Homo sapiens: one gene and its partner. The protein of the gene in region 2 purifies or fractionates together with the protein of the main gene of each other region. This does not show direct contact. Each region holds a gene or a part of one and is shown on either strand. Other genes may lie near its edges.

Region 1 (3,818 bases), on a different chromosome or scaffold from region 2:
AGATTGTGACAAGAACCTGAAAAGTAAATGTCAGAATAACATATGAACATGTTCTTAAAGAAAAAACATTCTTTATTATACAGATTAAATTATATTAAAACAACTATGTTGACCTCAAACTTGAGAACAAGGAACTTACTTGCTCTGGTATTCCCAGGCCCAAATAGTACCAGATAGTAAGAGCATAATATCTGTCTGATGAATTAAATTGAAATGAGTAGTCTGATAACAGAGTAAACTTATGAATTTTATTTTAAAGGATAATGCTACTAACAGTGATTAAAATCTCTAGGTGGTAATAAGTATAGTCCTTTCAAAACTATCTTGGGGATTTCTGATGCTTCATGAGTCAATCATAACACGCAGTTCTACCTTTTAGCGTAATCACAATAGACCTGAAGTCTTTCCCAAAAAAGAATTAGTAGAACTTGATTGTGTGCTGTTACTTGGTTGGCTTATCAGCTAAAATTAATTACCTGTAGTTCATAATTGTACAATGTGGTTGAAATAGCACTTCCTTAAGCATTTTTAGAGCATTTTCTCTGCTCTTTTTCATCTTACTTTAATTTGCCATACAATAGATACCTGTAAATCCAACTAGCGCCCATTTTCTGATCTTGATCCCATCAATGGAAAATGAAACAATGAGCATTATGTAATTCAGACTAAAATAAACCTCAGCTTGGGCATGGTGTCACACACCTGTAGTCCCAGCTACTCAGGAGGCCAAGGCAGGAGGACTGCTTGAGCCCAGGAGCTCAAAGCTGTAGTGCACTATGATCATGCCTGTGAAATAGCCACTGTACTCCAGCCTGGGCAACACAGGGAGGCCCTATCTCTAAAATAAAATAAACCTCATCAGTGGAGCTGAAGAGCTGATAGATGATAATTTCTGGGTGCACTGAACAGACCACTTTGGGTTTTTTCATTTGGGTTTTTTAAAAATTATTATTTGTAGAGACAGAGTCTCACTGTGTTACCCAGGCTGGTCTTAAACTCTTGGGCTTAAGCAATCCTCCCACCTTGGCTTCCCAAAGTGCCAGGATTACAGGCATAAGCCACTGTGCCTGGCCCTGAACAGACCATTTTGACTGCGTTGTAGTGTTTGTGTTGTGAAGCACTTGAGAGTATGGAAAGAGAAGAGGAATAGGAGATGTGAGGGAGGGAAAAATCAGGGGGAAAAGAGTGAGAGGGAAAAGGAAAGGAGAAGAGAGGCAGGAATAGGTGGCAGTTGGGGAGAAAAGGGAAGACAGGAGAAGGAAAGGAAGAAGAATGGGTAAAAGATAGAAGGGGAAGGGGAAGCAGATGGGGCAAAGAAGGGAGAGAGTGTCTAACGTGGAAGGGAAAGGCAAGGGAAGGGAAGCAGAAGAAAGCCAGTTAAGTATATGCTTTCTTTCTCTTGTCCCTCTTAAATCTCATTTCTCTTCAAAATAACCATGATTTTAGGCAGTGGAGGTCAGTCAGGAGTCATTAAATTATCACACTTAGTCATTCTGGTGGCAACTCGCAAATGCACAACCCAAAACTGCCTGACAACTGAATCATTAAAAGTGACTAACAACTAGTTTCTATGACCTGAAGAGTTAGCATAAGGAGAAGGAAATTTATGGTCAGTCAATACTCCTGTGTCTACAATCAAAAGCAGAAACCAAGGGGGAAATGTATATAAGCACCTATTTATATTTCAGCTGCTTCTTAAGAACTGTTTACATGCCAATGAAGATTACAGTAATCTCACCAAGGAACTTTTGCAAAAGAAAACGAAATAAAGATTTTACTCACCAGAGACACAACTAATGTGAACAGCCAGGCATAAATAAAAAAATAGTCACCCCCAATTTTAATAATGTAAAGTAGAAGTGAAGACACAGGCAACAAAATACACTGAGTCACAACAAATTTCTTGATTGCATCTTTCATGAAGAACCCCAAAGTCTGCAAAAAGAAAACATTACCACAAGAAACTGAGAAACTGGTTCTGCTTTTTAAAATAACTGATAAATAAATACAAAGGATACATTATTAAAGCAATTTTTAAAATTAACATGCAGTGAAACTATATTATATGACATTAGGCAGCTTAAGACAATGGGTAAATGTCTTGCATTTTACAGCTGAAAATTCATTTAAACCTTATTAACTGAGGACGAGTGCAGTGGCTCACAACTGTAATTCCAGCACTTTGGAAGGCCTAGATGGGAGGATTGCTTGAGCCCAGTAGTTCCAGGCCAGCCTGGGCAACATAGTGAGACCCTGTCACTACTAAAAATAATAATAAAAAAATTAACCCAGTGTAGTATAATTCATCTATAGTCCCAGATACTAGGCAGGCTGAGGTGGGAGGATTGCTTGAATCTGGAAGGTCGTGGCTACAGTGAGCCATGATCCTGCCACTGCACTCCAGCCTAGGTGACAGAACGAGACCCTGTCGCAAACAAACAAATGATTAGTAGCTGAAAAACAATAGATATTAGTGCTAAAGGAGTTTATAACATAAATTTCTTTTTTTTTTTTAAGAGACAGGTCTGGCTCTGTTGCCCAGGTTGGAGTACAGTGGCACAATGATGGCTCACCGTAGCCTCAACCTCCTGGGCTCAAGCAATCCTCCTGCTTTAGCCTCCCAAGTAGCTGGGACTTCAGGTGCATGCCACCACAACTGGCTTTTAGAATTTTTTTGTAGAGATGAAGTCTCACTATACTATCCAAGCTGGTCTTGAACTCCTGAACTCAAGTGATCCTCCCGCCTTAGCCTCCCAAAGTGTTGGGATTACAGGCGTGAGCCACTGTACCCAGTCAAGACTTTTTTTCTTTCTTTTTTTTTTTTTTTTTTTTTTTTGAGACGGAGTCTTGCTGTCACCCAGGCTGGAGTGCAGTGGCGAGATCTCAGCTCACTGCAAGCTCTGCCTCCCGGGTTCACGCCATTCTCCTGCCTCAGCCTCTCGAGTAGCTGGGACTACAGGCGCCCACCACCAAGCCCGGCTAATTTTTTGTATTTTCAGTAGAGACGGGTTTCACGGTGTTAGCCAGGATGGCCTCGATCTCCTGACCTTGGGATCCACCCGCCTCAGCCTCCCAAAGTGCTGGGATTACAGGCATGAGCCACTGGGCCTGGCCTTAAGTATTTTTTTTTTAAAATCAGTGTTGACCAGGTTGGCCTCGAACATGTAGCCTTGCCTCCCCGAGTGCCAGGGCAACTGGCCAGAGCCACCGCGGCCCCCAAGACTTTCAGCTATGATCTTTACCATATCTGTAGTTCCCTTTTTTCTCAATTCATACTCTGAAATAGTAAATTATGTTTAAATTATAAACAGTACAGGACAAAAGCACAGAAGTTTTTCACATTTAAAAGAGAACATTTGTATTCTTTATTATACCTGTTGATTGAAGCCATGTTTTTCTTCTATCACAAAAGTATTATAAAGACTCCATGGCAAACCAGTCAATGCACTGAAAAGTGTAGCCAACAGCAGAAACACCAGGGACTGAGTGATCTAAACAAAAGAAAAAACAAAAATCCAGTTTTTATGAACTACTGGCAAACAAATCAACAAGTATTTGCTGAGCACTTACTTACTACATCCCAAGCAATATGCTTGATTCTATGGATAACATAAGGTCTGAAATATCATCCCTGCCTTCAAAAAAGTTTACTTTTGAGAGAAGTAAATGAGAAACAAAACAATTCCTTTTTTATTACACAGGCACTATATGAAAGGTACCTTAAATCATACAGACAAATCCCTAAGATAAAGAGCCTGGATTCTTGGCTTACCACATGGAAGAAAGTCACCTGATAACTAAAAATACTCACACTGGAC
Region 2 (3,818 bases):
AATAACAGGAAGTAAACACAATAGTAGGTTTTTTCCTCCCTTTTGTTTACCAAAATATATGTTATATATGGTATTTCTCTAAACATTTAAGATGTAGATAATCTTCACATGCAGTTATATCATGTCTTCATCGTATTCTCTGTAAAATGGAATGCAGAATTGATTTTCCTCTTCTCTGACTACTAAAACTTCATTTCCCTCATTTTCACTATGTACTAACTTTTAAATTTCGTTTAGTCCTCTTTTTTCCCCTCTCTAATTTCTTTGGGAGTCGGGAGGTTGACAGTGAGTTGAATCAGAGTTGCTGATTTCTTTTCCTATGGCAGTAAACTCCCTAAAATAAAGGCCACCCTCCTAGCAGAAGCAGATGCTGTCTGTCAACTCTACTCCCCTCTTGCTGTCAAAAACTGACACCCAGCTGCAAACAATTTCATGTTTAGATGGTATATTAAGCAGAAGACGGACACCCCAAAAGAAGAAAGCCAACACTCGCTGTCTGACATAAGCATCAGGGTTAACAGGAACTGCTTGCTAAACCTTCCTAACTATGCCTGGTAGATCCTTGCTGTGGGAGAGAAAGACAAGGCTGATCTGAGTCACAGCTTTCTCTTTTAGAAGTGAGCAGCCTCAAGTGCCTCTCCCAGGCAATCAAGGAACCACAAAGTAAGATTCTCTTTCCCTTGACTACTATTTCAAATCTATTTGTCATAATTTCATGGAAATAAAAAAGCCCCCCCAAACATTCACCACTGGTCCCATCTGGGCCAGGAGAAAGCGGGTACCTTCTGGTTAACTTTGGTGGCGGCCACAGTCAGATTGTGTAGATCCTGGGGATTACAATCAGTTTCGTTCATGCAGCAGCTGGGGGGGATGCCATGCTCCAGGAAGTAGGGGCTGGTGCTCCAGTTGGTGTAGTTCTGCACACCACAGCAGCTCAGCTATTAACAGGGAAAGGAAAAGAATAAAAAAATGGCAGATCAAATGTGGTCTCCTCAATCACTGCCTTGTGACTTTTATAAGAGAAACACAGGCAAAAGCCCTAAGACAACATGTGCAGCTTTGGTGAGTCAAGATGAATGGAAGCTCCAATAACAATTATACCCATATTGATGCTTGTTTGATCTCCAAGAAGGAAGTTCTAAATTATATATCACATTGGCTTTCTTATTACCTCCACAAAGCAAAGCAGTGCGTCTGTGTCCAACTCACAATCACCTATTGATATAGATGTACTCATCCACTAAATCAGGACTATTGATTGGTGAGTTGAGGCAAATATGGTTTCAAAAAACTCTCCCCTGGGATATCTACTAATAAGTAAATAAATAGTTCTTAAGAAAAAAAGATGCACATACAGAAAGGGAGAGCCAAAGCTGGTAATCTATAGCCCAGGAGCTACCTGTTTTTGTAAATAAAGTTTTACTGGGACACAGCCACAACTATGTGTTCACATACTGTCTGTGGCTGCTTTTGTGCTACAGTGGCAGAGATGAGTAGTTGTGACAGAGTTTATGGCCCTCAAAGCCTAAAATATTTACTATTTGATCCTTTACAGAAGAAGTTTGCCAACCCCAATGTAGAGAATATTAAAGCAAACGGGGCAAAAATATAATTAATTGGTAAATCTGAGTATACAGTTCCTTGTAGTATTCCTGAGACTTTTCTGTATATGTTGGAACTTTTATCAAAATAAATTAGAAAAAAGACTTCTTCTGAAGTAAACAAAACCAAGAAAAACCAAAGCAAAATCCCCCTTAGTGATTCCTGATGGGCAGTTATGCTTGAGTGCCAGCACTTGCCACCCAGACAGGAAATCTCTCTTCTATTTCCCCCATATCCTCCGCAAAGCATCAGGCAGCTCACCACCTTCACATACCTAACAGAGCCTCAGTTTCTTCTAGGTCCACTCTATGCCCACTCCACTGCCCCAGCCAGTGAATGCAGCTCGCCTGAGCTCTCCACCCAGCCTGAAGACATCGATTCCAGAAAGCCAGCCTCCGGGAGCCAACTCTAAGCAAGGTTGTCACACACTCACTGCCTAACTCCTTCACAAGGGTTCAGATCTGAAGAGCAAATGAGCTGTCCTTGCCATACTTGCAACCCTTACTGATACAAGGCACACTCAAGGGAGTGGTCCTCCTTGACATTAATTACCTGAATAACTGGAGCCTGGACAAGGACTGGGTGTCAACTCTTGGCAATGGAACTGGACTAAGAGTTGAAGAACGGGAACAAATAGCAACTACTGGGCCAACCTACAGGCAGTCCATAAGTCTAAGCCTAGACTTCATAGTTAGTTCACACCCTCATCTCCTCTGGAACTTACGCTGCGCTGCACATGGTCCACTGCCCGGCTCCTCTCATCATTGCCATTGTAAGTCTGCATAGCGTCCGTGTAAGTCCTCAGGAAGGTGTCCTTGATCTATGGAAGACAAGGAGGGATGTGATTGCAGTCCACCACAGCCCAAACTGACTCCAATTCTTACCAAATTCTACCCTAACATAGCCTCTTCTGAAAGTCTCTGTATAAATGTAGGCCAGGGAGGCAATGCCCCATTTTCTGAGATGGAAAAGCTCAGAAAATTCACCAGGGGGTTTTTAAGCTCCGGAATTTAAAAAATTGTTCCCCTCAGCCTCAATCCAGAGAAAGCCTGACCTGCTGAATGACCTACTGGAGGGGCCTGTCCATTTCTGAAAGGCCTGTGATGGTGAGCTGCCAAACCTCAGGCATGAGCTTTCTACTTATTTTCTTTGAATTGATTAATACCCATCTTTCTATAACTTTCTCTGCCCTTACACAGGAGGCTCATAAAAGACAAACCACTTGGGTGGACAGGATGACTGATGTTTTGGTCAAAAACTGATCCCTGTTTTACCATAGGAGTGAGGCAAAACCAACTTTCACTTACCTGTCTTTATTGAGGCAAATTAAAAAAAAAAGATAATAAAGGACAAGAACTTAAAAAGGTTGGCTAGGTGCAGTGGCTCATGCCTGTAATCCCAGTGCTTTGGGAGGCCGACATGGGCAGATAACTTGAGGTCAGGAGTTCAAGACCAGCCTGGCCAAGATGGCAAAACCCAGTCTCTACTAAAAATACAAAAAAAAAATTAGTCAGGCATGGTGGCAGGCGCCAGTAATCCCAGCTACTTGGGTGGCTGAGTCAAGAGAATCGCTTGAACCCAGGAGGCAGAGGTTGCAGTAAGCAGAGATTGTGCCACAGCACTCCAGCCTTGGCAACAGAGCAAGGCTCTGTCTCAAAAAAAAAAAAAAAAAAAAAGTTAACAAAACCTTTTCTGTTACCACATTTGACTTTGGGGTAACTTTCAAGCTCTGTTTCCCTGGAAACCTGATGAAGGTGGAATGTCGAATGTGTTACCAGGCCACTGAGTTTATTGATAAAACTGACCCCCAATTGGTAAAATGCCTCCAGATTGGGAGGACAGCAAATGACAATAACTACTTGGTGGGAAGCTTAGGGCTAAGTATGGTGACTCTCCTAACTAGGCATATTCTTTGCTAAAATGCTGTAAACTATGTCCATGGGACAGTTACAAGAGATAGAGATACCAGTTACATGCAGCTTCTAAGCTAAGGTGGCTACCACACCCAGCTGTGTCATCTCATTTCGCTACACTTAAGCTGTCTCTTAGGATGGGGGACTGTACACAGAATAGGCACTAGACTATTTTGAGGACTCATGGTGGAGAAACAAGCCCACTACTGCCTAGCAGGCAAACTGTGCTTCCTTTGTTATATCTTTCTGCTTTTGTTAAATGGCACTAAATGAGACCTATTGTCATCATGTGAGTTTGACTAG

Evidence for each region.
Region 1: the proteins of TSPAN7 (region 2) and ZMPSTE24 fractionate together in Homo sapiens (co-fractionation; one large-scale study listed by BioGRID). This does not show direct contact.

What each region holds. Positions count from the first base shown.
Region 1 is NC_000001.11:40,268,092-40,271,909, reverse strand, and holds part of ZMPSTE24 (CAAX prenyl protease 1 homolog), read right to left. Parts: intron 3,492-3,818; coding exon 3,375-3,491; intron 1,936-3,374; coding exon 1,783-1,935; intron 17-1,782; coding exon 1-16. UniProt on the Homo sapiens protein: Transmembrane metalloprotease whose catalytic activity is critical for processing lamin A/LMNA on the inner nuclear membrane and clearing clogged translocons on the endoplasmic reticulum.
Region 2 is NC_000023.11:38,672,825-38,676,642, reverse strand, and holds part of TSPAN7 (tetraspanin-7), read right to left. Parts: intron 2,423-3,818; coding exon 2,327-2,422; intron 939-2,326; coding exon 783-938; intron 1-782. UniProt on the Homo sapiens protein: May be involved in cell proliferation and cell motility.